Linked DNA regions of Homo sapiens. The protein of the gene in region 2 purifies or fractionates together with the protein of the main gene of each other region. This does not show direct contact. Each region holds a gene or a part of one and is shown on either strand. Other genes may lie near its edges.

Region 1 (4,447 bases), on a different chromosome or scaffold from region 2:
GATCGCGCCACTGCACTCCAGCCTAGGCGACAAGATTGAGACTCCGTCTCAAAAAAAAAAAAAAGTAGTTTTTCCTGGTCTTTATAGGCTAATTCAATATACGAGACAAAGAATCATCATCGACATCAAGGAACACAGTGCTTATGACATTCTTTATTCAATTCACATAGAAAAGCATGCAGTATTAATGTAAAACAGTACAATATTAATGTAAAATGTTCAGTGCACATTAAACAGCATACATACCCATTTTTAAAGACCTATATAGGCATACCAAATACGTTTAGAACAATACACTTTTTCAGAGCCTAAATTAAAAATTGTGCTTACCTCTTACCTATCTTCACCCCCTCAACACTCTTCACAGAAAAGTTTTGTCCTACATAAAAGATATTCTATCAGCCAACTGAAACCTCTTTTTCTTAAGTATGGAAAACACAGCAAGCAAAAATGCTACCATGCATAGTTTCCACAAAGAACAGGAACATGCAAACAAGAAACATACTACTCAAAAGAAAACTCCCCTGGAATGCAAGTGGATCAAGAACTTGGCGATGAGCTCTTTCAAACCTGTTACATCTGGAACAATGAAGCTATGATGTTTTAGGTTCCTCTAAACCCAAGTGCTCCATGCCTTCTTTCCATAGTATGCTAAATTTCTGATTTTACACACATACACACACACGCAGAGGAGAAAATGTAAGCTACCTAACATAAAACAAATGTCTTCATATAGAAAATGTTTTCTTTCATACTAGCAGAACATTTTCACAAAACTGGACAAAACACAATGCTAAAAAATGCAAACATATACATAAAACCTAAAAAAAGAAAGTAAATCAATATTGGACTAAGGCTAGAGTGCTATTTCTCCATCATGGCCCTGCAGAAAAACTAGGCCATCACTAAACATAAATAAAAAGGGACAGGTAAAATAATTTCCACCCTGGGAAAAGCTTAAACTCAAGTGTCTTATTGAGCAGTGTATAGACAACACTAAAAGTTTTATTTAAGAAATCCAAGTTCTGAAGACAAGTGGGGCTTATCAACAGGCCACTGTATCTAACAGTTAAATAACATTTTTTAAAAAAACAATGTATATCCAACCGAGATACATATCAAATTCAGTAAAAAAACAAAACCAAAAACAAAACCAACCAACCAACCAACCCCAAAACACAAAAATAACCTCCTCCCTAACTTCTCTGGTCACAAAGACTCCCAAATAAAAATGAAAAGAACAAAGTCTTTTCAAAATGAACAATAAGTATTCTGGGTACAGGTTAATCCACCATCCTGACTTGATACTTGACTAAAGATTATCAATTCCAATTTGTATAGAACTTTTATGAGGAAAAAAGGTAACTTTAACAACTTTTCTATTTCTCTCAGGACAAAACCACAAATGACACCTTTCTAATGAGTCAACTTTTAGTTGCTTTTGATGGGCTGGCACTGGAAAGGCTGCTCTGGATTTTTCTTTTTGTTGATTGATTCACATTTTTATTCCTCTTTTCAGGCACAAAGGAAGTAGACCAAGGAGACTGAAGGTGGTTATGAAGACTGTGCATCTCTGAGGACATCTTAAACAAAGATGACCCAAATCTTTGATCTTCAAATAGTCGATGTGAACTGCTTAACAAAATGCCCTGGGAAAACTCTGTCTGAAACAAGCAGCTTGGGGGTTTGATTTCATTAGTTACTGGACAAGAACTGGAATGGAGTGAAAAATCTTCATTCATTTCTTGGTCAGATGGAGAGAGGAGAAAAAAAGAAGTGGGTTTCCATTCACTTCCATTTTCTAACTGATCATTAGTTAGAGAACCTTTGGAAAGGTTTAGCTCAGTTTTTTCTTCCAACTTATCAGGTTCCTCAAGAAATTCACTGCCTTGAGATGACTTTGATAACCCATCCAAATCCAGTGACTTAAAACCGTTATTACAAGGGCTCTTGCTGTTGTCTGACTCTGACATCATTGAATCCAACTCAGAGATTTTGTCAAGGTAAGCAGCATCCATCGATGCTTCACTGGATGTTCTTGTCCGGTTCATTTCAAAAGAGCGAATAGAATTCAACCTTTTGGATAAACATAAGCCTGATTTCTCACTCAATTTTGAAGATATTTCTCCAACAGAATTTGCTATCGTGTTCCCCTCTGAACTTTCAAAATCTAAGTTTTGGGCATAGCTTGTGGAACAACAGTCCCAAAATCCTGTCTTTGGGGAAGAAAAACATTCTGATTTCTTTTCATTTTCACTTCTACTTATATCATCTTCTGAAGAATCTTTATTAGAAACATTTGAAGAATCACAAAAATCATCAAACACCAATTTTCTGAGATGGTTTGAGTGCTTTTTGGAACCTCCTGCTTGGACCACAGAGCTCTCTCTATTTTCTGGAGTACTGAGCTGAAGGCAACTAAGGGACAAAGGAGTACAAGGAGCTGGAAGATCATAAAGTTCTTCATCTTTGTAGGGTACACAGTCACTTGGTTTATTCCCCCATTCTCTTTCCAAATAAGTATCCATACTTGTATCTGTCACATCTAACATTACTTCTACCTGTTCTTGATATAGGTCTTTGTTCTTAGAACAGTTAAGGTCTGCTTTGCTGGTACTTTCCTGCCTTGCAGAACTGGTGTCACACAGTCTGCTGCTGGAAGGCTTCGCTAGGTGAGAAGAACTGGAGGTGGATGAGCCAGGCTGCTTTCTGGCACTATCGCCTTGATTCTTTGACACCACATCCTCCTCACTGCCTTTGCTCCCTTTGCCATCTGCAGAAAGTGCTGTCTGGCAAATGGAATTCATAGCTTCTTTCTCTTCACTTGAATTTTTTAGCTGTGCAACTTGAGATTCTAGTTCCTCTATATACTTATCACTTCGTTCCAGGGCTTTCTTGAGGCGATTGGTTTCACGCTCATACTGTTCTACTTTGGACTGAAGAGCAGCAACTGCAAACCTTCCAAACCTACAAAGAATGGAAAGATAGTTAATCTTATAACTCAAGCTTTTTTCTTTTCAAGGTTTGAGAGTGCAAACTGTCCCAGGCTATTCTAATTTCACCTAACAGTGACATTTCAGACCACTCAATGAGTAGGGCAAATGCCAGATGTATATTTTCAAAAAATGGTTTCCCCACTTACATAATAATAAACATATGATAATAATAGCAAAACCTAATAGGATATTTTTGTGGTTAAATCAGATCTATGGTAGCAGAGAGGCAGAAATGTGCTGATGATTTCCCCTCGAAGAGCTGGCTGTATCAATTCAGCTCATATATGCATGAAGAGTTATCCCCTAAAACAATGGCAAAGATTTATGATAACATTTGAACAGTGGTCTACATCTTGAAATATTTACATTCAATCATTTTCCTATCATACAGCAGTGTTTTACAATACATTTCTTATATAATGTCACCTTGTCAAACATAAAATGCCAATTTGAAATTCAGAAATCTTAGCAGTCCCAGGAGGGGTGGTTTTAAATACTTATTTGGGCCCTTTCAATTATAGCCACCCTTGATCTGAAGCTTTTCTGTGGCTTTTCAGAGCACTGGCCTTTAATTTATGTCAGCACTACTTATTTTTGGCATTTTACAGCTGTGTGGGACATCTATCTCATTTCTTTCAACTTTGAAATATGAAGTCAGTGCTTGTGATTCCAATATACTAGGCAAAAAAAAAAATTTTTTTGTACACTTTCTGAAAGAGAACATTTTGGAGAGTGACTGAAAAAGAATTCCCTTATTCACAAAAAGTCTACTCCTTTTACACCGGGATTATCTTGCTGTTATTTCCACCAAGAATGAGTACTGTGTTAAGCTCAGGAAACAATTTTTGAGTACCTAGTATAGGTTAGGTGGTATATTTGGGGCTGGGAACACAAAAGATAAAAAAGACTGTCTAGCTCCAAGGGACATAAAATATCTACCTTAAATTCAATCTTATCACCAAAAATAAATTCTATCTTTCAGGAAACTTATGAGCCAATAAATAACATAATCCCGTGAAAAATACCTTATCTCCTCCAAAATTCTTTTCAAAGCCTATTCTTAATCATCTTTTTGATGATTTATATATTGGCCCATTTCTAAGAATTAAGGGATTGTCTGTTTGGAGGAAGCTATGAGAAGGTGACTTTCAAAAATTATTTTTATCTTTGGGTTTATCTTTTTCTTCCTTTTTTCCCCTAATTTGAAAAATAATTACAATTAAGAACATGTATTTAGTATTGAAAAAAAAAACTACAAAAAAAGCAGAAGCCAATAGCAATTGCCCCTCTTAGAATCAACCACAACATGTTTTCAACTCCCACTTAATGCCCATCACCTCCTAAACCACTAGCCCAATTCATTCCCCATCTCAACCCCTACATAATCCCTGCACTCTTATCACTGAAGGAAAAAGCAGAGGCAAAGGTAAATATAGAATCATAAAATCTCA
Region 2 (4,447 bases):
TGAATTCCTTATGCTCATCACACACTGAAACACAATATGCACAGAGAAGCAAATGAGAAAAAAAATCGCTCTTATTTAATTACTCAAGCGAAGTATGATGCTAATTAAGAATTATTTCACTATCACATTCTTCATGCATGCAAATATGTACCATATGAGCTAATACTTGTAAAATAGTTACATAGTACTTGGTACAGAGTAAGTCCTCAGTATTTTTAGCTATTATTATCACCATCACCATCACCATAGTCATCATCATCATCATCATCATCATCATATTTAGGAAGTTCACACAATTCAATTCATCATGCAATCCACAAATTCTTCTAAAGCATATTGGGGCATGCATCAGCCTCAAAGAATGTGAAATCTAGTGAGGTAAGGAGAAATGTCAACTGTAATTGAAATATGGTGTGATAAGGCTACAGAGGTAAGGAGAGAGTGCAATGGGAGCCCAAAGGAAGAGTACCCAGTGCCCCAGGAACACAGTGACACAGCTTTTGAAAAAGAAAGCTTCCCTGAAGAGTTTTCATGTAAGTGGAGACCTGAAGAATGAATCGAAATTGGGCAAAAAATGAGGCGAAAGGGTATTCCAAGAGAACGATGGCATGTGCAAAGGTCGAGGCCAGGATGAGAGATTTCAAGAAGACATGTTGGTGAATCTTCATTGAACCCACTGAGAGTAACAGCAAAAACTTGGAAACCATGTAAATGCCCACTGAAAAATGTATAGTGGCATAATTATACATATGTATTATACAACAGCAAAAATAACAAATAAGACATATACTATCAATGTGGATGAAGCTCACAGTGTGTTGATCAAGTTGCAAAAGCATAAATATGCACTTCTATAATGATAGAAAACTTTTAAAACAATATGATGCATTCCTTAAAGATGTATATACAGACAGGTATAAAGCAGTACATAGAAATAACCCAAATGCCAGCTGGACACAGTGGCTCACGCCTGTAATCCCAGCACTTTGGGGGGCTGAGGCGGGCAGATCACCCAAAGTCAGGAGTTCGAGACCAGCCTGACCAACAGGGTGAAACCCGGTCTCTACTAAAAATACAAAAAAAAAAAAAAAAAAAGAAAGAACCCAAATGCCTCTTAGAGGCAGGAAGAAAATGCAATCAGGGAGAGGTACACTGGAGATAAAATAAAGCAAAATGTTTTCTTTCTTAAGTGGGTATGTTCATGAAAAGATCTAGTCCTTCCATTTCTCTCAAGTCACCTTGACTCGCCACCGCACTCACCATGGTGAATAATGCCCCGGTCTGCTAATTTCTGCATGAGTTTAATTGCCGTCTCTCTGTCAGAAGCCTCTTTGTGTTCAATCAGCCAGTCAATCAGTTCTTTTGCGACAAAACAGTTTGGGTAGGTCTTGAGATGATGACGTCTATCTTTAATAACCTTTTCTTCGTGCAGCCTGAGCCTGAAAGAAAAATTAGCAATTACTTTGGAAATTCTGATGACAGCACAAATTATTAAACCAATCCCAGACAGTAATAACATAACAGAAGTTCTAAAGGCATGAAGGTGTCATTGAATATCTTTAGCTCGCTTGGTGATTTCCATACTGTCAGAGTTCAAAGGCTCCAGAAAGTGACTCCAGCCTCTGATCTAGATGACAGAGGTAAATATGAGGGTGAAACAATCACAGCCAACCCAGAACCCTCCTGCCACTCCTGAGAGTGAGAAAAGCTCTCCATCCCCTACTCTGCCTCACTCCCTGCTTTTTCTCTCTCCAGTGGGGTTATTGTTTCAACCAGCAAACAAAAACCCTAGAAATGCACTGAAACAAAGTGCACCCTCTTTATCACAAATTGTTCAGGGCCCACCCTACTTGTAGTCATTCATTCATATAAAAAATATTAATGAATGTCTACTACCTGCCTGTTAGGTACTTCTAGGCACTACAGACATACATCAGGGTGTGGTGGCTCATATCTGTAATCCCAGCACTTTGGGATGCTGAGGCAGGAGGATCACTTGAGGTCAGGAGTTTGAGACCACACTGGCCAACAGTGAAAACCCATCTCTACTAAAAATACAAAAATTAGCCAGGTGTGGTAGCAGGTGCCTGTAATCCCAGCTACTCAAGAGGCTGAGGCAGGAGAATCGCTTGAACCTGGGAGGTGGAGGTTGCAGTGAGCTGAGATCGTGCCATTGCACTCCAGCCTAGGCAACGAGAGTGAAACTCCGTCTTAAAATATATATAATATATATATTTATATATATATAATATATATGTATATATATATGTATATATGTGTCTTGAGCTACTACTAGCCAATCTTGCCATCATAAAGGAAGAATCTGCCTAGAAAGAAATACAACACAGAGCAAAGTGGACCAGATAGATAGAGATAAAGGGATAGAGACAAAAGAGAGAGACAGAGAGATTACAAACAACTCTATTTGAGCACCTGAATTCAACAGTTCATGAAGCCACCTAACCTGGGTTTAAATTACATGAATCGATACATTCCCTGTGCTTTAGTGAGTTTATTCAGGTATCTGTTACTAATACCAATATTGTCCCAATACACCCTCGAGCTGAATGCTAGCTTGTGGCTCCATGGCACGGAATGTTGCCACAGTGGTGCCTTCAGAGACCACGTAAACGGCCAGAGCTCTGTACTCTGCACCCAGTGGTTCCAGAACTTCATAGGGTCTGTTTCTCATTCTCCTATCTCCTTTCCCTGTCCTGCTGTGATATGCATATGTTGTCCTTGTTCCTAAACTCAAGCAGTTCCCCTAATCTGCTGTTTCTCTTCTGCCATGGTCTGCTAAGTAGTCAGTATTTAGGATTTAAAATATTTTGAGCAAAAGCCTGATATGAACATCTACGAAGAAAGAAAATGAGCATTTTGGGCATGGAATTTATGACATCTATTTTGGTCACTCAAAGGCTATCTTATGTGCTTTATTACTGCTCTTTGGCTGAGTGCTAAATAATTGGGAATGAATGTTAATGATGCTTATTTACTGTACAATGTTCTACCATCTGCAAATATTTATTATCTAAAACTTAAGAGTCAAGTCATACTATAGGATTGGCTAAGGAAAGGACATAGCAATGAATCCACTAGTAACAGAGATGAGGATATCAGTGATATCAGGAAAATACTAAAGGAGAGGTATCCAGTAGACCCAGAAAACATTCTCATAAGATGGTGGTGATAGAGTAGGGCTGCCAGGTTTAGTAAGGAAAAACCAGACAGGAAACCCAGTTAAATTTGAATTTCAGATAAACAGCAAACCATTGTGTAGTAAAAGCTTGACCCAAATATTGCATGGGACCTACTTATACTTTAAAAAAACAATTTATTATACTGTATCTATAATTCAAATTTTAGAGGGCACTCTGCATTTTCTGACAACCTTATGGGGGATATATTTTATTAACCTTGAAGGTTAGTACATTAGGATTAATGTTTTATGCTAAAAAAGAAAGGAAACTACACTGATGCCAGAAGACACTTTGAGTCCTTAGGGCTTCCTCTTCTAGGGAAAGCTAGTTGTGTGATTTTTTTAGAGCACCTGAATCATCATGTTTATCTGAGTATTCCAGAAGATACTTCAACCCATGTGCTTGGAGCCAGACTAGGCTTCATTTGCCAGGGACCAGGTAGGAAATGGGAACTGTAAAGATTATAAATTGGTAAAGCTGGTGGAGTGAAATCGGAGCACAGAATCTCCCTTTCTTCTATTAAGGAAAATAATTTTTTAAAAAAACAGCAAACAGAAGTAGCCAGACAAAGAAAAAGAAACCCTAACTACATAAATGTTTTTAATTGGCATCCTAATCAAATTAATGCTGGAACAGAAAACCAATACCACATGTTCTCTCTTCTAAAAGGGAGCTAAACATTGTGAACACATAGACATCAAGAAGGAAACAACAGGCCGGGCATGGTGGCTCACGCCTGTAATCCCAGCACTTTGGGAGGCCAAGGCAGGTGGATCACTTGAGGTCGGGAGCTCGAGACCAGCCTGGCCAACATGGTGAAACCCCGTCTCTACTGCAAATACAAAAATTAGCCAGGCACGGTGGTGCATGCCTGTAATCCCAGCTACTAAGGAGGCTGAGGCAGGAGAATTGCTTGAACCTGGGAGGCAGAGGTTGCAGTGAGCTGAGATTGCACAACTGCACTCCAGCCTGGGCAACAGAGCAAAACTCTGTGTCAAAAAAACAAAAAGTAAACAGGCAACAATAGACACTGGGGCTGATATGGTTTGACTGTGTCCCCACCCAAATTTCACCTTGAATTGTAATAATCCCCATGTGTCAAGGGCAGGGCCAGGTGGAGATAATTGAATCATGGGGCAGTTTTCCCCATACTGTTCGCGTGGTAATGAATAAATCTCAAGATCTGATGGGTTTTTTTTGTTGTTGTTCTCGTTGTTGTTGTTTTTATTATTTTCGTTTGTTTGTTT
Region 3 (4,447 bases), on a different chromosome or scaffold from region 2:
AGTGAGAGCCGAGCGCCGTGGCTCACGCCTGTAACCCCAGCACTTGGGGAGGCTGAGGTGGGCAGGTCACCTGAGGTCAGGAGTTCGAGACCATCTTGGCCAACATGGTGAAACCCCATCTACTAAGAATACAAAAATTAGCCGGGCATGGTGGCGGGCGCCTGTAATCCCAGCTACTCGGGAGGCTGAGGCAGGAGAATCGCTTGAACCCGGGAGGTGGAGGTTGCAGTGAGCCGAGATCACGGCAACAGAGCTAGACTCTGTCTCAAAAAAAAGAAGCAGCACAGTGAGCTGGCCAGGGTCACATAGGAAGAGAGTAACAGTCCGGCTAGAACCAGACTCCCACCTCGGGAAGGAGGCCTCCTGTCCCTCTACCACCTTCCCTCTGGGGTGGCCACCTGTCCTCCCTGAGGTCCCACTACCAGCACCCCTCCCCATACTGCAGGCTTGCTGGAGCTGGGAGTGCAGAGTGGTGGCGGCTTCCTGGTCTGCCTGAGCCTGGGAGCAGGTGGGATGCACAGGCTCTGTGGCATTCATCTCCTTGTCTCACGCTGCGTCCACAGCTCCTGAGCCCGCTGAACCTGGAGCAGGCCGCGTACGCACGAGACGCCCTCGCCAAGGCTGTGTACAGCCGCACTTTTACCTGGCTCGTCGGGAAGATCAACAGGTCGCTGGCCTCCAAGGTGAGGGCTCGGTCCACACTGCTCCCAAGGCAGAAGGGAGGGCCGTCGGCGAGGCGGGGGGTGCTGCAGGGTGGGGCTGGCACGCGCAGGGGGCCCACGCCTTCGGTTGAATGACTGCCCTAGGACGTGGAGAGCCCCAGCTGGCGGAGCACCACGGTTCTCGGGCTCCTGGATATTTATGGCTTTGAAGTGTTTCAGCATAACAGGTCGGTGCCATCTTTCCCCCGTCTCTCCTCCCGGTCTCCTGTCCTGCTCCCTCTCTTCTGTCCTCCAGCCTCTCATTCCTGCCCTGTGACTCCCCAGCCAGCCGGGGACTGTCTCTGTGTTTCTCACCTCCTGTGCTCAGGGGCGTCGTCCAGCTTTTCCCCTCTCCTGGTCCTGTGTCCCCACTGAGCCACTGTGGGCTCTTCTCCTTCCTTACAGCTTTGAGCAGTTCTGCATCAATTACTGCAACGAGAAGCTGCAGCAGCTCTTCATCGAGCTCACGCTCAAGTCGGAGCAGGAGGAGTACGAGGCAGAGGGCATCGCGGTGTGTGCTAGCCTGGGGGCACTCTCCGTGGGCCACGGGGAGCCTGGGTATCGGGGCCCCTGGGAGAGGGTGCCAGGACCCCACGGTGATCCCTTCCTTCCCTTCTGCCCCTCAGTGGGAGCCCGTCCAGTATTTCAACAACAAAATCATCTGTGATCTGGTGGAGGAGAAGTTTAAGGGCATCATCTCGATTTTGGTGAGTCCTCTGCGCCTCCAAGGCCTGGTGCTGGAGGCTGGGTGGGAGGATGTCCCCCTTCTCCGTTCTCTCCAGGCTGGTCCACGGAGGGCCAGAGTTTGGGGCTGAGTAGAGACAGGGCAGAGCTGTGAATGGAGGATGGAGGGAGGTGCCGCCCCAGTTGGAAGCTCTCTGTGGAGACTCCCTGTGATCTGCCCCTCCCCTGTGTCTGTGCCTCCCAGCACGGTGACCCCAATCCTCTGTGCGCTCTGACCTGTCCCCCATACGTCCTTCCCCCTGTGCCACACCCCCCAGGATGAGGAGTGTCTGCGCCCCGGGGAGGCCACAGACCTGACCTTCCTGGAGAAGCTGGAGGATACTGTCAAGCACCATCCACACTTCCTGACGTGAGTGGGGCTGCGGGGCTGCTGGGGGCAAGGGCTCACTTGCAGCAGAGCCTGCGGAGTGCAGGAGTCCCTCCGCCATCACAAAACACCAGCCACAAGGAGGTGACCAGGGACGGTGCTGAGTTAAGGACCCCTCACATGTGTCCAGAAACTAAGAAGCTTAGCCAGGCATGCTGACACGCCTGGAGTCCCATCTATGCAGAAGGCTGGGGCAAGAGCATCACTTGAGCCCTGGAGTTTTGAGGTTGCAGTGAGCTAGGATCAACCCACTGCACTCCAGCCTGGGTGACAAGAGCGAGACTCCGTCTCAAAAAAAAAAAAAAAGGGAAAAAAATAAATAATGAATTTTTTAAAAAAGAGAAAGAAGGCCAGGTGCAGTGGCTCACGCCTGTAATCCTAGCACTTTGGGAGGCTGAGGCGGGTGGATCACCTTAGGTTAGGAGTTCAAAACGAGCCTGGGCAACATGGTGAAACCCAGTCTCTACTAAAAATGCAAAAATTCGCTGGGTGTGGTGGCAGGTGCCTATAATCCCAGCTACTCGGGAGGCTGAGGCGGGAGAATCGCTCGAACCCGGGAGGTGCAGGTTGCAGTGAGCCGAGATCGCACCACTGCCCTCCAGCCTGAGCGACAGAGTGAGACTTCAACCCCAAAAAAAAAAACAAAAAACAAGACACTAGTAGCCTGGCTTCCTCCTTCTTCTTGTTTGAGAATGAAACTTGCTAAGATTTTTCATCTTCCTTGTTTGGAAATTGATTTTTATTGAAGGAATCCTCTGAAGTGGGGAGAGGTAGAAACAGGAACAAGCGCCTCTGTCCAGCGCGGTCTGATGCATGCTGTGCATGTCGTCGCTTCACCTGCAGCTGCTCCTTGAGGGGTTCTTGGTGTTTTCTCACTGAGACTCCAAGAGGCGAAGTCATTTCCCCAAAATTAGCTCTCATCTGGGTTGCCGAGCTGGGGTCAGTGCCAGGGCTGTTGAATGCCAAAGCCATGAGTATTTTTTGCATAATAATATATTGAAAATTTGTTTCTGGATGGGCGTGGTGGCTCACGCCTGTCATCCCGACACTGTGGGAGGCCTAGGTGGGCAGAGATCACCTGAGGTCAGGAATTCAAGACCAGCCTGGCCAACATGGTGAAACCCTATCTCTATTAAAACTACAAAAATTAGTCAGGCGTGGTAGTGGGCACCTATAATTCCAGCTACTTGGGAGCTAGGAGAATTGCTTGAACCTGGGGGGCGGAGCTTGCAGTGAGCTGAGATGGTGCCACTGCACTCCAGCCTGGATGACAGAGTGAGACTCCGTCTCAAAAAAAAAAAAAAGACTTGTTTCTAGGAGTCTCTCTGAATCTATTCGGGTTTAGGGGCTGCCTGATTCATTAAATAATAAATACTAAAAACTTGTTCCTGATTATAAAAATAATATTGCTTATTACAGCAAAGTTGGAATGTGCGCAAAAGCCACCTGTGATCCCGTCGCCCAAAGGCCATGGCTGTTAACTGTGTGAGGCATTTCCCTCCTGCCTTTTTCTATGCATTTTTTTTCGTAGTCGAGAACTTGTGTATAAGGCTCAGGGTAAATATCCTGCACATTTTCCCGTATCATCAAACAACATTTTCCTCAGAACACTTCCTGGAGCGGTTCTGACCCACAGATACTCCCCTCTCTCACCCAGCCCTTCGGGGCCCCTGGCCAGCCTCCCAGGTTTCTGCTGGAATCACAAGGCTGCCACAAACATCTCCGTGCCTTCAATCTTTGTCCGTGTCTCTGGTTAGCTGCTTGAAATAGTTCTTAAAAGCAAATGGGTGAAAGGGTATAAACACGCCTAAGACTTAAGTGCTCTCTTGGGGCAGCAGATTCCATTCTGAAAAGTAGTGCGCAGCTCACCACCCCTTCTGAGCAGAGCCCGCAGCGGCCGAAGCAACGAGAGTTTCCCTCCCTGCAGCGTACCCTGGCCGTCAGGAGGCCCAGGTCCCGGTCCTGGCACTGTGTGGCCCTGGCCAAGGCCATCTACCTCTCTGAGCCTCCATGGTCCGCTCTGATCAGGGAGGCCACTGGCCCTGCCTGGCCTGCCTCAGTGACCCAGCCCTGGGGGTGCACCTGCTCTTTTTTTTTTGGAGTGTAGTGGCACCATCTCGGCTCACTGCAACCTCTGCCTCCCAGGTTCAAGCGATTCTCCTTTGTCAGCCTCCTGAGTAGCTGGGACTACAGGCGCCCACCACCACGCCTGGCTAATTTTTGTATTTTTGGTAGAGATGGGGTTTCACCATATTGACCAAGCTGGTCTCGAAGTACTGACTTTGTGATCTACCCACCTCGGCCTCCCCAACTGCTGGGATTACAGCCGTGAGCCACTGTGCCCGGCCTGGGGTGCACCTGGGCAGCTGGTTCCTGCTCCTGAGGCCCTTTCAGCAGGCAGAGGGCTTGGCTCAGGCCGGCAGCCATCTGCAGCTTCCTCCCTGTCACCCCCAGGCACAAGCTGGCTGACCAGCGGACCAGGAAATCTCTGGGCCGAGGGGAATTCCGCCTTCTGCACTATGCGGGGGAGGTGACCTACAGCGTGACCGGTGAGGATCCTGGGGCTGTGTCCCCACAGGGGCCTGCGGGGAGGCTCTGTCTCACCTCACGTCGGTTCTCCCCTCCCAGGGTTTCT
Region 4 (4,447 bases), on a different chromosome or scaffold from region 2:
TGTAAATATATAGGAGAATTATCTGGAAAGATGCCCAAGGAACCACGGGCAGCTTTAGCTTCTGGGGAGGAAGGCAGGATTTGAGAAAGATCCCATTTCATTGTACATCCTCTGACATTGTCTGAATAGTTTTACTTTTAAAACAAACTAGGTTTCAGTATTAAAAAGAAAAGAGCCTATCAACCAGAAAAACTGCACCAATGAAGCACTGATGAACTGAGAATGGGGAAAGAAATCAACGGCAGATCAGTTCTTCCTGGATGGGGGAGCTGCTGAAGGCAGGGATGGAGCCTTACTCAACTCTGTGTCCCCAGAGCCCCGTGCAGGGCCTGGTACCAAGTGGACCGTGGCAAATGCTTACTGAATGAATGAACGGATGGAAGGATGATTGGACAGGGGCATGAATGAAAGCACAGATGAATCAGCTGCTGATAAGCGTGAGGTAACTGGAATCCAATGCTGGGCTGATAGAATGCTGGCCCAGAGCTGCCAAATATCACTCAGGAAAGGTATGAACTCTCCTGGGCCTTCTGGGATGCTTACAGGAAGCTCATGGGCCTTCCACAATCTCGGGTCACGGACTACAGAGCTAAAATAACACAGAAATTTAGGCCTGTGGGTTCTAAGCCTGGTCGCAGAGTCGAGTCAGTCCTCTTCTGTAAGAAGGCTGGGAATGCAGACAGCATTCACTGCCCTGACACTCCCTCCCTGCCCCTTCCTGCCAAAGCCATATCTCAGTAAGCAAAGGAAGTGCTTCTTGAATTGTTTTGAGTAGGTTCCTCTGAAAACCCGAGAAAAGTCCTGCAGCCGCAGAGCCCAGTCCATGAAGACTCCAACATCCCTCTGTTCAACCCTGTAATGGTTCTCAGATGTCAGAAGCAGTCGAATCATTTGGAATAAAAAGACACCTGGACCTCTTTCCAGGAGCATCCCGCCAAATGGGTCAAGGGTGGAGCTCAGAATTTGCATTTTTAAAACAAGAGCCCAAGACCACGCTTGATAGTGGTGTCCAAACGCCCATTGCCCTAGGTTAAAAACTTGAAGGAATGAAAAAGTGAATGCCTTATCAAAATCACCCCTGTAATATTTCTTGTTAAAATTTGTACAAGGCCGGATGTGGTGGCTCACGCCTGTAATCCCAGCACTTAGGGAGGCCGAGGTGGGAGGATCACTTGAGGTGAGGAGTTCAAGACCAACCTGGCCAACATGGTGAAACCCCATCTCTACTAAAAATACAAAAATTAGCCAAGCCTGGTGGCACACACCTGTAGTCCCGGCTACTAGGGAGGCTGAGGCAGGAGAATCGCTTGAACCCGGGAGGTGGAGGTTGCAGTGAGCTGCCACTGCACTCCAGCCTGGGCAACAGAGCGAGACTCCATCTCAAAAAAAAAAAAATTGTACAAAACACAGGTGATCACCAAGGACAAAACAAAAAATCACCATAAATTCACCATCCTCAGAAAACTATGGTTCACAGTCTCACATATAAACTGCCAGACATGTTTATACATATATTTGTATTTTCCTAAAATAGGACCATACCGTATCTTTTTTTTTTTTTTTGAAACGGAGTTTCACTCTGTCACCCAGGCTGGAGTGCAGTGGCACGATCTCGGCTCACTGCAACCTCCACCCTCTGGGTTCAAGTGATTCTCCTTCCTCAGCCTCCTGAGTAGCTGGGACTACAGGCGCCTGCCACCACGCCTGGCTAATTTTTTGTATTTTTAGTAGAGATGGGGGTTTCACCATCTTGGCCAGGCTGGTCTTGAACTCCTGACCTCGTGATCCACCCGACTTGGCCTCCCAAAGTGCTGGGATTACAGGCGTTAGCCACCGCGCCCAGCCATCTTTTTCTAAGAACTGAACATCATGATCAACTTTTCAGGTCTAAGACACAGAACATAAGCTCTGCAGAGTTTGTTTTATTCATCTCTCTATCCCCAGAACCTAGCCCAATGCCCAGCATATAGTAGGTGCTCAATAAATCTTTGCTGCCTGACTGCCAGTAAGGTCCTGACACACCTCGCTCATCTTGGGCAGTTACCATGCTCAGTCAACCCCCTATGGCTGGACACTGACGTGGTTCCTCATTTTCAATTTTATAAACAATGACCTAATGAACATTATTTTCCTAGATTTTTGTACACTCTCTTAATTATTTCCTTAGCTTACTCTCCTATGAGTACAATTGATGACTCAAAGGCAATGACCATTTTTAAGGCCTTTGATACAATTTGCCAAATGCCCACTGGAGACACTGCAGTTAATTACACCCATGTGGATTCCTTGTGAGCTGACCATTCCTAGAGACTGCTGGCTCCAACCTGGTCTAGGCCAGCCCACATTCCCTTCAAGCTCACTCCTCCTCCCCTACCCGCAAAATCTTCTTACAGAAAAATTCAAACCTAAAACATAGGGAATTGTATAATGGACTCCCACGTACCCATTTCCCAACTTCAGCAATTACCAGCGTATGGCCAATCTTGTTTCATCCCTATCCCGCCACTGGAGTGGGGCCCAGAATCTGCATTCTTAAAACCAGCAGCCCATATATATGTATGTGTGTGTATACTTATATACACACACACACACACACATATATATATATGACAGCCCATATTATGTGTATACATATACATGACAAGCTGGTTTCATTCCAGTTATATCATTCAGGACCAGTTAAACAATTCAGTACCACAATACAAGATACAATTTGATATAGGAAAGTTTCTCCTTAGATTCTGCCCTAGGGGATCTCGTTCCTGAAGTTAGCTGCTGACGATAATGAAGAGAACGGCCAACATTTATTGAGCACTCACAATGTGGCAGGCCGTGTACTAAACTCTGTACACGCATCTCATTAATCCTCATAGCAAGGCTTAAGGTGGAGAGGATTCTTCCCACTTTACACATGCAGAAACTGAGGCTTAGCAGAGTTAAATGACTTTCCCAAGACCACAGGGCTGGGAAAGAGTGGAGGGGGACACTGGAGGCCGAGGTCCTCATGACCGCACTCCACCACCATCTGGCAGGAGCTCTTCCATAGTGGCCTCCAGGCCTCTTATCATCGATCATATACCTACTATACCCTGGGTACAGGGCTGGGTCCTGGGGACAAAGCAGTGGGCAAGGCAGAGTGCCATGTTATAGCTGGCGCAACAGCCAAGGGCAGCAGATGACTGGGAGAACAAGGTGATTTCAGAGAGTGGTCTATGCTAGGAAGAAAAAACAGGTTTGTCCTTAGGAGTGAGGGTTACTTTAGATAGGGTGACCAGTGAGGGCTTCTTGGAGACGGTGGCGTTTGAACTGAGACCTTAATGCCAAGAAACAACCCCCATAGCAAGACCTGGGCACAGAGGGACCTACAAAGGCAACGGCCCAGTGCCAGGGACTGAGCTTGGGAGCTGAGGAAATAAAAGCCAGCCCTTCCCCAGCTGTCCATTGCTTGATCTCATGCTTTTTTCTCTCCACTTGAGCCAGCCTGAGATAGCTTTCGCCACTAGCCCTGGAGAAGGCAAGGTTTTCTGTCCACACCCTCTCTCTGCTTGCACACTCTGGGCCTTCTTAGCTTGATCCTCTTTCCTGTCCAGCAGCTGAGGGTCCATCGTAGCTGCAGACATTTGTGGACGGCCGACGTCGGATGACATGTTACCATGACACAAAACGACAATGACCACGGCACCACACCAAGAATCATCTACCTCTATTACAACCAGACATTTGCACTCAAATAAGGAGGTGCTGCCGTATACTTATCCGTTGCTGGAGGCAGCATGAATGGGAACCAGACACAGCTGGAAAGCAATCGGGTAACAGAGCGCCAACCCTGTACATATCAGAGGCATTATTGCCACAGTGAAACACAGGAAACGACAGACACTTTCGGTGAGAAGACAATGACTTAGAAAAGCAGAGCAGAGTGGGGACAGATCACCTGAGGTCAGGAGTTCAAGACCAGCCTGGCCAACGTGGTGAAACCCTGTCTCAACTAAAAATACAGAAAATTAGCTGGGCATTGTGGCAGGCACCTGTAATCCCAGCTGCTCGGGAGACTGAGACAGGAGAATTGCTTGAACCCGGGAGGCTGAGGTTGCAGTGAGCCGAGACTGTGCCACTGCACTCCAGCCTGGGTGACACAGTAAGACTCCGTCTCAAAAAAAAAAAAAAAAAAGCACAGCAGAGCTGCAAGATGGACAACTGTGCTCCCATTACAACTGGAAAGTAAGAAAATCGTGGCTATGTAATAAGGTCAAGTACAAAAAGCAGACGGTAAACTGCAATCCATGCCTTGGAAAAAAAGAAAAGTGAGTTCTGCTTATGGACAAGGACTCACAGGGACACAGAAAAATGAGGTTCGATTTGTCGGGGGGGCAGGTCACAGAGGGATGTTTTCTTTGCCTTGGATCCCTGACAATGGGAGAGCAAACGCATTTCAGGAAATAATAAG
Region 5 (4,447 bases), on a different chromosome or scaffold from region 2:
AAGAAAAAGAAAAAGAAAATCAAGAAAGACCAGCCCTCAATAACACCTAGATGCTGGAATTATATAACTGCAATATAATCCTCTCTATCAGAGTGGCAGGGACCACATCTTAAATATCACCATATCACTCAAAATAGAAGGATTCAAATAATTGTCACTAACAAATACATTTTCCATAAATATTGTGTAGTTATTCCTTTAGGATTAAAATAAAACAAACAAAAAATAAACATAAACTTACCATGCAGGTACGAGAGTTTTCACCTATGAAAGAATCTCTTAACACCTGAGTGAGTTTACTTGCACGGAAAGGAGTATGAGGTTTATTTCTACCTAAGGCTCTGATGCACTCCTGAAAATTAAGAAAACAAGTCTCACAGATTAGTCTTTCTTATAAAGGATAATCTTAATTAACATATTTTAAAAGGTCTCTTACTACAACTTGAACATTTAAGGGTCTGATCAGTTTTGAAAATTCTACTAACAGTTTTATTTTTTTTTTGAGACAAAGTCTCGCTCTGTCACCCAGGCTGGGGTGTGGTGGCGCAATCTTGGCTCACTACAACCTTTGTCTCCAGGCTTCAGGCGATTCTCCTACCCCAGCCTCCCAAGTAGCTGGGATAACAGGCGCCTGCTACCACGACTGGCTGTTTTTTATTTTTAGTAGAGATGGGGTTTCACCATGCTGACCAGGCTGGTATCGAACTCCTGACCTCAGGGGATCCACCCGCCTCGGCCTCCCAAAGTGCTGGGATTACAGACGTGAGCCACTGCGCCTGGCCAACAGTTTTAAAGCATAGTGTAGATGTTCCCATAAATGCTAATTCAAGAAAATAAAAAATGACAGCAAAAAAACCTACTTTATTCTTCCAACAGATATTTCTGGAAACTATGACTAGTGTTTGAAAGTGACAGGCAGTAGGATAACTGTAAAAAGTTAATTTCTTAACATGGCACTCCAAAAGAAAAAAACACAGAATGCCTTATTTTAGTCTTTCCAACCTTTGGTGTTCTACTCAAGGAAAAGATGTAATAACCTGGCCTAACATTTTGAAAGCCATTCCACATTTTTCTGAGAAACTGTTTCTTAGCTCAATTCAGTGGTTCGTTGCCCTCCTCCTAGAAAATATGACTAATTAAGACCCTCTGGGCCGGGCGCGGTGGCTCACGCCTGTAATCCCAGCACTTTGGAAGGCTGAGGTGGGTAGATCACGAGGTCAGAAGTTCAAGACCAGCCTAGCCAACATGGTGAAACCCCATATCTACTAAAAATACAAAAATTAGCTGGGTGTGGTGGTGCGTGCCTGTAATCCCAGCTCCTGGAGAGGCTGAGGCAGGAGAATGGCTTGAACCCAGGAGGTGGAGGTTGCGGTGAGCCGAGATTGTGTCACTGCACTCCAGCCTGGGCGAAAGAGCAAGACACAGTCTCAAAAAAAAAAAAAACCTCTGGAGTTTACCTATGTAGCCCCAGAACTGACCTACTAACTCACATATCCTTTATCCCATCTAAAAAGAATAAAGAATGTGTGCAAGGAAAAAATCTGGGTATAATAAAATCACACTATACATTACAAGCATCTGAATTTTGAAAACCTCTTTTTATTAGGTAAAACAAGTACTACTATTTTGCAACTGAGTAAAGAAAATTAAAGTCAAAAGTAAAAGACCTTTCATGATAAAATACATTTTATTTACCTTGAGTGCTAAAAGGCTTTTATTAATTTCAGCACCTTCAAGCCTAGTTTGCCTGTCCGCACTGGAAGTATCAGCTCCTCTTTCATTTCCAGCCAAATCAATGAGAGAAAATTTGCCATGTAGTTTTCCTTTCCTTCTAAGAATAATCTGAAACACTGCATGGCTCCGAGATGAATGTGCATTTGCAGATGTTTGACCGGATGTTCTACAATGTGATTAAGGACATCTTGATACATTAAAAACTTCAATTTACATGTTCAAACCACATTATTTTCATTAAAAACAACAGCAGCAAAAACATCGATTTAGCTAGTTTTCATCTTTTAAATACAGATGAGACACTGAGTTATAACACTTAAATAGAACCAGATTCATACAATTTAATCCGGCATATTTCTAATATATTTGTAATGTAGTATCAATATAATAATTGTCACTCACATTTACATGTAACACAAGTTTTTATGAACAATGATTTTTACTTCCAAGATGTATTGATAGATAACATCCTCATTTTGTTATACTGTACCCAAAGTTTCTAAAACTGATGTTTCCTTTCTTAATCAAAATGAGATTTACCTGCAACTGTTGCCTATGTCAATGAGTTTCAGTACATCTTCAACACATTTGACCTCCCGTTCCTGTAATCCCACCACTTGAACCTGCTGTTTTCCATCTTCTAGAACTCTTAATTTTGTTTTCCTGTTTAGCAAGTCAAACACCTATGAAAAACCATATTCAAATTAGAAAACTAGCTTTAAAGTAAAAAACAGGCTAGGTGCAATGGCTCACGCCTGTAATCCCAGCATTTTGGGAGGCTGAGGCAGGAGGATGGCTTGAGCTCAGGAGTTCAAAACCAGCCTGGGCAACATAGTGAGACCTTGTCTCTGCTAAAAATAAAACAAATTAGCTGGGCATGGTGGTGCATGCCTATAGTCGCAGCTACTAGGAAAGCTGAGGCGGGAAGCTCACTTGAGCTCAGGAGATTGAAGCTACAGTTAGCTGTGATCATGCCACTGCACTCCAGCATGGGTGACACAGCGAGATCCTGTGGCAATTAAAATATCAGTTCTATAAAAATGAGTCACCCAGAGTTTAAGAATTATTTCAGAGATTAAAATAATAATTGGAATAAGAATTCTCAACACTGAAGTTGAAAAGTTTCAAAGGACTTTTTAAAAAAATCTCATAACATAAATTCTAATATAAAAGTTCTAAATACACATAAATTATGGTGGTAAACGCTGCACAACAATGTGAATATATTTAATGCCACTGAACTTAAAAATGGTTAAAATGGCAAATGTTATGTTATATATATATTTTAAAAAATTAAAATTAAAAAAGTTCCCACTTACCTTTCCACTATAAATTTCAAAGAAGGTTGCATATACTTGAAGTTCTAGCTTCTTATAGTTTGGCTTCTTTAGCATTAAAAAGACATCTCGAGCTGTCAAAAATTTCATATACAGAAAATTGAGATCCAACAAATATTTTTAAAAAGCAACTCAAATTTTCTATTTCTAGAGGAATCAGTTACTCTTTACCTAGGATAACAGTATCAATAATAAAAATGAGAAAGTGAATATTAATTTTACAAAAAATAGTATTAATAGAAGCTATTCTCTTTCATATGCCATAAAAGGGTGCTACTTTTATTTATATATATTAATATTTATATTTATAAATAGCATAAAATTATAGGTGGTCATAATGAGGTTATTCTTATACCATAGCTAGTAGCTTTTTACAGTTCAGAAATTCAACAATTGAGACTCATCTCCAACAATGTGCTAGAATGCACTGACAAATATAATCAAGATTTCTGCCCCCTCAAAATCAATCTTACAGTTCTTTTTTTTTTTTTTGAGATGGGGTCTTGGTCTGTTGCCCAGGCTGAAGTGTAGTGGCATGATCTTGGCTCACTGCAACCTCTGCTTCCTGGGTTCAAATGATCAAACAATTCTGCCTCAGCCTCCTGAGTAGCTGGGATTACAGGCGCCCGCCACCACGCCTGGCTAAGTTTTTTTTTGTATTTTTAGTAGAGATGGAGTTTCACCATGTTGGCCAGGCTGGTCTCGAACTCCTGACCTCAAGTGATCCACCCACCTTGGCCTCCCAAAGTGCAGGGATTACAGGCATGAACCACCACACCCAGCCTACAGTTCTTGTCTTCTTAAAAAAAAAAAAAATTATTGTGAATATATAATCTTATAGTTCTTTTCAAGCAATCTAATAACCTATAATTGACATAATAGACAGTTAATATAGCATTATAGTTGCTGAACAATATTTTAAAGCCTTATTTCAAAGTTACCTGAATAATACCACAGAAGAATATTCCAAATTTTATGGAAAAAGGACAGTTACCTGCTAATGCATAAATTCCTTTAGAACAATCTTGGTTCTTTCCTGAAAAGTCACCACCCATAGTCTATATTTTAAAAAGAAAATAAAGAACAGACATTACTCAGGAATAACTCTTAAGAATTTAGTTCACAGAATTAAGCTATAAGGAAAAGAAACTGTAGCTTCGTACCAGAATGTAACTTTAATAAATTACTTACATGAGTTTTTCCACTTCCAGTCTGCCCATAAGCAAAGCATGTAGCCATTCCCCTTTCAAATATAGTTTCCACTAGTGGTCTAGCAGTAAACCTTAAAAATAAAATGCATCAGTCAGAATGTGTCACCAATATTTTGATGAATAATAGTAATGCTGAGTAATACAAAGTATTTTATTAATAAATAA
Region 6 (4,447 bases), on a different chromosome or scaffold from region 2:
CAGATTCTCAGGACCCTTCACTGACTTCATAAATCTTCATCTCTGGAGGTGAGACCCTGGACACTGTATATGCAACGAGCACACCACCAATCCTGGATGAGCCCCGCTTTTTCTCTGTGCCAGAACCTTAATGCCACGCAGCATTACATTAAGTCACATTACAACTTTGGTCAATGGAAACACAGGTCTTTTTCTGACAAAATGCCATCAAGCCAGGTTTGCTCCCCACTTAAGTTCAAATATTAATCATTAATTTTCTGAGCCTAAATGCATTTATCCATGTTAAACATAATTATTTTAACCTCAGCTTGATTTGGTCTTTTTAACCTTTGTTCTGTTAATGAGATTCTTTTTTCAGCCTGTGTTGAATCATCCACAAATGAGTATTCCACATCATTAATAAATAATGCTAAGGAGGACAGAACCAAGGACAGAAACCGGTAAGACGACTCCTTTTTCTCATCAAATTAGATAATATTCAGCACAGAGTTGTTCAACTGACTACAAGTCCTCTTAATGCTTAAAGCCTCTACCCACACCTCAATCTCCCATTTTAACGCCAGGATTTCCTAGGCAACACTGTCAACCCCACTGAAATCATAGAAGCCTGTGTTTCTCAAAATGAGAGAAGAAACTAAATGTTAGTATCCTTTTCTAGATAAAGTTATAGAAAAGGGCCAAATCATGATTTGTGACATTGCCCCCACTTGCTTCTACCAGTTTTAAACACTGTCTTTTTGGACCTAGATTTTAAGAAATATTGGTGGTTTATATAGCACCATAATAAACTATGACAAAATATACTTTACAAAAATATTAATATTTCCAGGTTAATCCAAGCATCGAACAAAACTCTTCGAGATGAAGTGTTCTATCAGGTGAAAAGCCATTTCCTTTCCTTATGCTACCTCATTCCCTTTTCCAAGAGTTGCCTTCCCTCCCACACCTAGTTTGCCATTTCCAGGGGCTAAGTTCAACTGATGGTCCACAGGTCCTTTCCACACATGCCTGAAACCAGCAATATGCTAAGAACCCTTTCCTCCCTCAAGACTCTGCTACAAATGGTATCTATTATTTCCAGTTATCACTTAATGTGGATAAAGAGTTTATAGAATTTTATAGGTTAGTCAGAAATGCCTTTAGGTAGAGGTTAAGACTATAAGAAACAACTGTCTCATAATTAATAAAATATTTCAAACACCACTGTTATGAACAAAGTTAACTAAGAAAAGTTATATATGAGGTAAGTGCCTTGTGCTATACAAAATCACATTTTTATAATGGCTTTGACTTACGTATTTTCAATCATTCAAGCATAAGTCTTCCAGGTCATTTTGTTCCTAACAGCAGGACAAGCAGGGACCCTCGCCCCACCAAAAAGATACTATTTTAACTAATGTCAGGAAAAGTACAGGGCTACTTTGATGCCTTTTACAGATACCTGTCCTTTTTCTTGTTCTTTAAAGAAAAAAAAGTACCCTTTTTAAAGTGAAAAAAAAAATTTTTCCTCAGAAGTTCATAAAAAGTTTGGGAGAAGCTTAAAAGGCATAAAATTAAATGTATGCAATATTTTTCAAATCAACTATTGGCACACCCCAATAAAATTAGCTGGGCTACTTACTGTATTAAATAAGTGTTAAAAACAATTAGAAATACATTGTGAATAATAAAATACATTTTGAAAGTAATAGCATATTTTCAAATTTAGAATTTTTAAATAATAATGTAAATTTATAGCTCACTTCTAAGATCTGAGGACCTAAACTACACAATTATATGCAAAAGTGTAGTTACCTTTCACTTAGATGATGAAAACTGCTGCTTTCATCTTGGTGTTCATCTTCAAAACTTAAATTGGACCAGCTACCAGTGCTGTCATCACCAATACTGAGGTTCATCTGCTGGCTACTGACAGACTCGGTTGACTGAAAGTCTTCTATTTCTTTTGAACTAAAAAGAAGAAAAAAAGAAAAAAAATCAAATTGAAAGCATCCCAGATTCTGAACTTACAAGACTATCAATTTGATGACAAAGATGATAAAAACAAGAAATGGTATTCGGAATCAGACCAGTGGCTCATGTAATCCTTTATTTGAGTCTGCCAACAAACAGACTGTAGGATAGCGTATTAATTTCAAAGTTAACTGAGGTACCCACCAACAGCCATAACTTACTTTGTTAATCTACAATGGATCTATCCCTAGGGCATTATTTCTCTAAATTCTACTTAAAGCAGTTCATTTTTCAACTGAGATACCATGGGGCAGTACAAGTTCCTAAGTTATCATCTGCTTTGTAAAACAGTACTTTTATTTATGTTAAAGGAGTCTCTTTCTGGCTTTAAGAACAAAAAAGTCGTTCAAGAAATTCTAGTATTGTCAACCAAGCCTGTATTCAAACTAACCAAATCTCTTCAAGATTTTGAACATAGATCATAACCCCTTTCATTTTTCTCAATAAGAGGCATTTATACTTTTATTCCATCATCACAAGAAAGTCCATTCACTGCTCAACTATTTTAATTGTCCCACTACATTTTATGTTCAACAAAGTAGTTCAAAGTGATGTTTCCATAAAAAGAAAAAATGTCAGTCTTCGGATCAAAACCTTCCAATGGCTTCCCACCAAGCCGAAGAGCCCAAATCCTTAAAACATACTGCCTGTCCCCTCTTATAACATCCATCTGAACTCCTACTGTTCTCCCTGGCCCACTCCTCCTATGTTCTCCCTGGCCCACTCCTCCCACTTCAGCAATACAAGCCTCTCTGTTGTTTCCCAAACATGCACAGTCCCACCCCTAGGCCTGGAAATCTGTTCTCGGTGACTCCCACATGACTTATTCTCATTTCACTTTTGGTTTTTGGCTCAAGTATCACTTTGCCAGTATTGTTTCCCCTGCTACCTATCCAAAACTGTAAACCAGCCCTAATGGCCACCGCCACTGTCACCACCAGCACTCTCTAACTCCCTAACTCCCTACCTTGCTTTATTTTTCCCCCAAAGCACTTATCACTATGTGACATACTATATATTTTACTTACCTATTGTCTTATTCCACTATAACATAAGCTCCAAGAGAATGCAGATTTTTGCCTGTTTTACTTACTTCCGTATCCCTAGTGCTATCCTGAGAATAGCCCCTGAATTGCCCCCCATTTTTTCAGCTATTCTAATTTTGTAAGATACAGAATGATACTGAGCATTCCAAGCATAGGCACATTATAGTTCTGAACCATTGATAGATTACTACTTTGTTTTTTTGAATACTTTTCCTAATATGTGCCACATTCTCATGGTTTTTGGCTGAAATGACCCAAAGGATGAGGTCCAGAGAAGAGTTTATAATGACTGTGAGGTTATTTTGGCTCGGAATGATAGCTTAGAATATAATCGTTTTGTTGGCTAAAAATGCACTATCAGCCAGGCACGGTGGCTCATGCTTGCAATCTCAGCACTTTGGGAGGCTAGGGCAGGAGGATTGCTTGAGCTCAGGAATTCAAGATCAGCCTGAGCAACATAGTGAGATCTCATCTCTACAAACAAACAACAACAAACAAAAATGAATAAAAATGTACTATCACATAATTTCCCAATTGCATTCACATGCCACCTCTCTGTTCATTACAGTTTGTGAAATATTTATGGTCATGTTCATGAATCAAACAAAAAGGGACATCAGGTGAAATAATACCTTAAAGAATAATCCATCTGAATGAATCTCCTTTCAAGTTTGAAAGACAAATTTAACTTTAGAAATAAAAAATGTTAAACGTAAACTCTACACACTAGAGTCAGCTTTCCTTAGTCAGTATTTACAGAACCCTAGCACAATTATTAAGAAGAGAAGCAGGAAAATAATTACTCCAGCCTTAATAAAAAGCTGAAATTGGACAGCACTGGCTTACAGGAAGAACTTTAGGGGCTATCTACTCACCCAACTCTAAGAAGGAAAAGTGGAAATTACTGAGAAAATCAATAACAAAGGCATTTGCTAGCCCCTGAGAGTGATGTCTTAAAAACTTTAGAGGACAGTCTCTTTTCTTCCCATGAGGGTGGGAGGAAAGGGGGATGGATGGGTCCGTAGGGCAGACAGGACTGAACTGAGGAGGAGTAAAAAGTAAAATAGCCTGAAGCAACCTGTATGAGGAAAATTATTTCAATTGTAAAAAGGCCTAATTTATTACCTATTCATGAGAATATTTATTAACAATTTATTATGTTTATTATCATACTAGGAACTGGTATGTAGTGAAAACGAAAATGTGGATCTAGGACAGAGGTTCGCAATTGTTTTCTGTAAGAGGCCATGATATGGTTTGGCTCTATGTCCCTACCCAAATCTCATCTCAAATTGTAACCCCCAGGGAGGGACCTGGTGGGAGGTGATTGGATCATGAGGGCGGCTTCCTCCATGCTGTTCTCATGACAGTGAGGGAGTTCTCATGAG
Region 7 (4,447 bases), on a different chromosome or scaffold from region 2:
TAGTTTTGAGATTGTCTTTTTGTTAAGCATGTTGATTATCTTAGAAGTACTTTTAAAACAGGCCGGGTGTGGTGGCTCATGCCTGTAATCCCAGCACTTTGGGAGGCCGAGGCGGGTGGATTGCTTGAGCCCAGGAGTTCAAGACCAGCCTGCATAACATAATGAGGCCTTGTCTCTGTTGATGTTTAGGCTTAAATATATTTTTTAAAAATAAAAAGAAGTACTTTAAAAACACTATTCTAAGAAAATTCCACAATAAAAGGTTTTATTTTCTTAATGACGCTGCACAGCGGTCATTTTTGTTTTTCTTTGTAGGTTTTAATGTGGAAACAGTAGAATATAAGAACATTTGTTTCACAGTATGGGATGTTGGTGGTCAAGATAGAATTAGGCCTCTCTGGAAGCATTACTTCCAGAATACCCAGGTAAGGGATACTGTATGTTTTTATAACTTTTCTTTGTGGGTTTCATGCTCTAAAGTTTTTATTAGTATCTAGTATTTACTTGGATATTGGTGTTTACTATGAGTTGGCATTTGTCTTATCACCACTTCCACATTCTTCAGTGGACTCTCACTTAGGCCTTGAAGGCTAACTTATATAGGGTGGAAGAGTTGTAAAGCAATTGCGGTAAGTGTTTGGAAGATGGGGTGGGTGCTGGTGTAGTTCACAAGAATGAATTAGGTCTCTTATCCGTAGTTCTTTGCTTTCCATCTTAGTTTAGAAAGTAAGGTCTGTATAAACTGTCATTGTAGTTTCTGATGAATGTAAGACAATTGATAGTCCTTTGTTTAGCCCAGTTACTTGTTTACTTTATTAAATACAGTAAAGTCAGTTCGCTGCATTGATTTGTAAGATATTTTTATATTGCCACATAGTATGTATATATAATACTGGCATGGAAGAGACTTTAGTGATCCTGTAGAACAGGAGTTCTCAAATTTGGGGGTGGCACGTAAGAATCACATGGGGACCTTTGAAAATCCCAAGACCTGGATCATCCCCTAGATGACTTGAATCAGAATATCAGGGGATATAATCCAGGTACAGTAGTGTTTCTTAAACTTTAATATGCATATCAATCACCTGGGTATTTGTTAAAAATACACATTGAGTCCATAGGTCCTAGCTAAGGCCTGAGATTCTGTATTTCTAGCAAGTTCTCGGGTTGTGCTGATACTACTGGTCTGGTATCTTACAGCACAGCACTATTGACATTTTGGGCTGGGTTATTCTTTGTTGTTGGGTATGGGGAGGGCTCTCTATGCATTGTAGGTTGTTTAGTGGCATCCTTGTCCTCTACCCACTAGATGGCAATAGCAGCTGCCCTCAAGTAGCAGCCAAAAATCTCTCCACACCTGCAAAATATCCCCTGGGGGCAAAATTGCTCCCTGCTGAGAACCACTGTTCTAATCTAACTCTCTTACATATGAGGAAACTGAAACTTGGAATGACTTACCCAAGATGGGAGAGTTTGTTCTCACTCTACCTTTGTTTAACCTGGTCCCACCTCGATTGTGTTTTCTACCACCCAAGGAATTTCTTGTCAGTTTTTTTTTATTACTTAATAATTTTTTTTAAGTGTGATATCACTGCCACTTTATATTTTTAAGACTTGCAATGTCATCTTGTTATCAGCCTCTTAAAACATTGCATACAAGTGGGGTTTATTGCCATCAGGTGGCAGTGAATACCCTAGGTGAGTGGCTGGGACAACCAGGTTTACATAGTATGTCATATTAAATAAGTGGTATACTTTTTTATTTAAAAACGAGAATGTTTAGGCCAGGCACGGTGGCTCATGCCTGTGATCCCAGCACTTTGGGAGGCTGAGGCGGGCGGATCACGAGGTCAGGAGTTCAAGACCAGCCTGACCAACACAGTGAAACCCCGTCTTTACTAAAAATACAAAAATTAGCCGGGCGTGGTGGCGCGCACCTGTGATCCCAGCTACTCAGGAGGCTGAGGCAGGAGAATCACTTGAACCCGGGAGGTGGAGGTTGTGATGAGCCGAGATCACACCATTGCACTCCAGCATGGGTGACAAAGCGAGACTCTGTCTCAAAAAAAAAAAAATAGTAGAATGTTTATGGTCATCAATATAGCTGTGACTAGAAAAGATACTTGATACAGAGGCACATGCTTTAAAAAGCTTCCTTATGGAAAATGTTAAATACAAGGTGAACATTCCTTATCCGAAATTCTTGGGACCAGAAACCACTGTTTCTGATCTCAGAATTTTGGGGGTTTTGGAATATTTGCATTGTACCCAGTTGAGCATTCTAAATCCAGAAATCCAAAATCCGATATACTCCAGGGAGTTTTTTCTTTGTTATGTTGGTGCTCGGGAAGTTTTGGATTTGGATTTTTGGATTAAGGAAACTCAATCTGTACACCTACAAATAGAATAGCATAATAAACTCACATGTATGTATTATGCAGCTTCAGTTACTAGGATATAAGCAGTGCTGTGTTGTTTCATACTCATCTCTAATGTGCTCTACCCTCTAGACAGTTTGTTTATTTTTTTTGAGATGGAGTTCTCGTCCTGTCACCCAGGCTATGGCGCAATCTTGGCTCACTGCAACCTCTGCCTCCTGGGTTCAAGCGATTCTCCTGCCTCAGCCTCCCAAGTAGCTGGGACTTCAGGCATGCGCCACCACACCTGGCTAATTTTGTATTTTTAGTAGAGACGGGGTTTCACCATGTTAGCCAGGCTGGTCTCGATCTCCTGACCTCATGTGATCCACCTGCCTGGGCTTCCCAAAGTGCTGGGATTACAGGCATGAGCTACTGCGCTTGGCCAATATATTTTGAAAGAGTTAGATATGAAGTAAAACCTTGCTAATCCTTAAGCCTAATAATTCTTGACCAAGGGTAACCCTGGGTTTATCCCTAGATTTGTTTAGAATGCTTTGTAATTTACTTTGCATTCTTAATTTGAAATTAGACCCAATTCTGGCCTCTTTGGACCATCTGAGAATTAAAAGTCTAAGTACTGCTTCCTAGGGAGTTCATGCTAGCTGGGGAAAGCTTTATGTGTTACCTGATAGAATCAAAGCTAAGCTCTTAGCTTGCATTCCCAGCATTACTGATCAGTTCTCCTAGCTATAAAATTTAAAAGAAACTATAGCTTTAACCATGTTTCTAACTTATACTAACAAACCATGGCACAGTGTGTAGTAAATTCCTCTTATAATTCCAACTAATTTGCCATTGTAAATAAGTAAATATTTGGCTTTTCAAATAATTTCATAGCAGCTGGGCTTATCTGTAGAATCCTAGCTTTTCTTCACTCTTGATTCTAGGCTGTTCCAGGAAGAAAATAATTAGGGATTAATACCTAAAATAATTCTCCTTCTCAATAATGTCACTTTGGGACTGATAGCATTATTTGCATTTTAAAACAAAGGCTGGGTGCAGTGGCTTATGCCTGTACTCTCAGCACTTTGGGAGGCTGAGGTGGGAGGATCGCTTGAGCTCAGGAGTTTGAGGCCAGCCTGGGGAACATAGTGAGACCCTGTCTTTACATTTAAAAAAAAAAAAAAAGAATAAAAATGGGAAGTTAGCAGTCAAAATAAAATTAGGTCCCTTTTAGGGGCATTACCTCTTGTAAAGGGTAGGTTTCAGGACCGGGTGCTATGGCTTATGCCTGAAACACCAACACTTTGGGAGGCCATGATACGAGGATCACTTGAGGCCAGTCCAGGCAACAGAGTGAAACCCTGTCTCTACAAAAAAAAATTAAAAAAAAATTACCTGGGCATGGTGGCATACTCCTGTAGTCCCAGCTACTTGAGAGGCTGAGGTGGGAGGATCACCTGAGCACAGGAGTTGGAGGCTGAAGTGAGCTACAGTTGCGCCTCTGTACTCCAGCCTGGGGGACAAAAGGAGACCTTGCCTCTTTTTTGAAAAAAAGAAGAAACAAAAAAATGGAAGGTTTGGTTCTAAAAAGGAGTAGCTTTTGAAATATGGAAAGGAGGAGACATATTTGCTAAATAAATGCCCATGATAAGCCAAGAACAATGATCTTTTATATCTCTGTGATTGCATTTAATCTTTAACAAGCTTATGAAGTTAGTATTTTTATTTTATTTAGACGAGGCATAGTCAAGGATTAGATAATATATATAACAAGTAGTATAAGATTTGAATTTGAGTCTGTCTTCCCACCACACTATATTGGCTCCCAAAGCATCAAACATTATTTTTTGTTTTTGAGATGGGGTCTCACTCTGTTACCCAGGCTAGAGTGCAGTGGCATGATCATGGCTCACTGTAGCTTCAGTCAACCTCCTGGGCTCATGTGATCCTCCCTTCTCAGCTTCCTAAGTAGCTAGGACTATAGACATGTGCCACCATGCCCTACTAAAATTTTAATTTTTTTCGTAGAGACAGGGTCTTACTCTGCCCAGGGTGATCTTGAACTCCTGACTTCATGTGATCCT

What was found.
Region 1: the proteins of DEPTOR (region 2) and OBI1 purify together in Homo sapiens (affinity purification with mass spectrometry, with the first as the bait; one large-scale study listed by BioGRID). This does not show direct contact.
Region 3: the proteins of DEPTOR (region 2) and MYO1C purify together in Homo sapiens (affinity purification with mass spectrometry, with the first as the bait; one large-scale study listed by BioGRID). This does not show direct contact.
Region 4: the proteins of DEPTOR (region 2) and ERGIC1 purify together in Homo sapiens (affinity purification with mass spectrometry, with the first as the bait; one large-scale study listed by BioGRID). This does not show direct contact.
Region 5: the proteins of DEPTOR (region 2) and KIF2A purify together in Homo sapiens (affinity purification with mass spectrometry, with the first as the bait; one large-scale study listed by BioGRID). This does not show direct contact.
Region 6: the proteins of DEPTOR (region 2) and AKAP11 purify together in Homo sapiens (affinity purification with mass spectrometry, with the first as the bait; one large-scale study listed by BioGRID). This does not show direct contact.
Region 7: the proteins of DEPTOR (region 2) and ARF4 purify together in Homo sapiens (affinity purification with mass spectrometry, with the first as the bait; one large-scale study listed by BioGRID). This does not show direct contact.

Annotation. Positions count from the first base shown.
Region 1 is NC_000013.11:78,614,156-78,618,602, forward strand, and holds the end of OBI1 (ORC ubiquitin ligase 1), read right to left. Parts: intron 3,171-4,447; exon of another isoform or gene 2,968-3,170; coding exon 1,425-2,967; 3' UTR 134-1,424; downstream 1-133. UniProt on the Homo sapiens protein: E3 ubiquitin ligase essential for DNA replication origin activation during S phase.
Region 2 is NC_000008.11:119,925,392-119,929,838, reverse strand, and holds part of DEPTOR (DEP domain-containing mTOR-interacting protein), read right to left. Parts: intron 1,440-4,447; coding exon 1,261-1,439; intron 25-1,260; coding exon 1-24. UniProt on the Homo sapiens protein: Negative regulator of the mTORC1 and mTORC2 complexes: inhibits the protein kinase activity of MTOR, thereby inactivating both complexes. DEPTOR inhibits mTORC1 and mTORC2 to induce autophagy.
Region 3 is NC_000017.11:1,474,852-1,479,298, reverse strand, and holds part of MYO1C (unconventional myosin-Ic), read left to right. Parts: intron 1-563; coding exon 564-683; intron 684-806; coding exon 807-889; intron 890-1,106; coding exon 1,107-1,212; intron 1,213-1,327; coding exon 1,328-1,408; intron 1,409-1,702; coding exon 1,703-1,794; intron 1,795-4,266; coding exon 4,267-4,361; intron 4,362-4,440; coding exon 4,441-4,447.
Region 4 is NC_000005.10:172,927,304-172,931,750, reverse strand, and holds part of ERGIC1 (endoplasmic reticulum-Golgi intermediate compartment protein 1), read right to left. Parts: intron 1-4,447. UniProt on the Homo sapiens protein: Possible role in transport between endoplasmic reticulum and Golgi.
Region 5 is NC_000005.10:62,361,148-62,365,594, reverse strand, and holds part of KIF2A (kinesin-like protein KIF2A), read right to left. Parts: intron 4,354-4,447; coding exon 4,263-4,353; intron 4,130-4,262; coding exon 4,066-4,129; intron 3,146-4,065; coding exon 3,054-3,145; intron 2,418-3,053; coding exon 2,275-2,417; intron 1,901-2,274; coding exon 1,696-1,900; intron 353-1,695; coding exon 242-352; intron 1-241. UniProt on the Homo sapiens protein: Plus end-directed microtubule-dependent motor required for normal brain development. May regulate microtubule dynamics during axonal growth. Required for normal progression through mitosis. Required for normal congress of chromosomes at the metaphase plate.
Region 6 is NC_000013.11:42,305,957-42,310,403, reverse strand, and holds part of AKAP11 (A-kinase anchor protein 11), read right to left. Parts: intron 1,951-4,447; coding exon 1,795-1,950; intron 1-1,794. UniProt on the Homo sapiens protein: Binds to type II regulatory subunits of protein kinase A and anchors/targets them.
Region 7 is NC_000003.12:57,579,876-57,584,322, reverse strand, and holds part of ARF4 (ADP-ribosylation factor 4), read left to right. Parts: intron 1-315; coding exon 316-425; intron 426-4,447.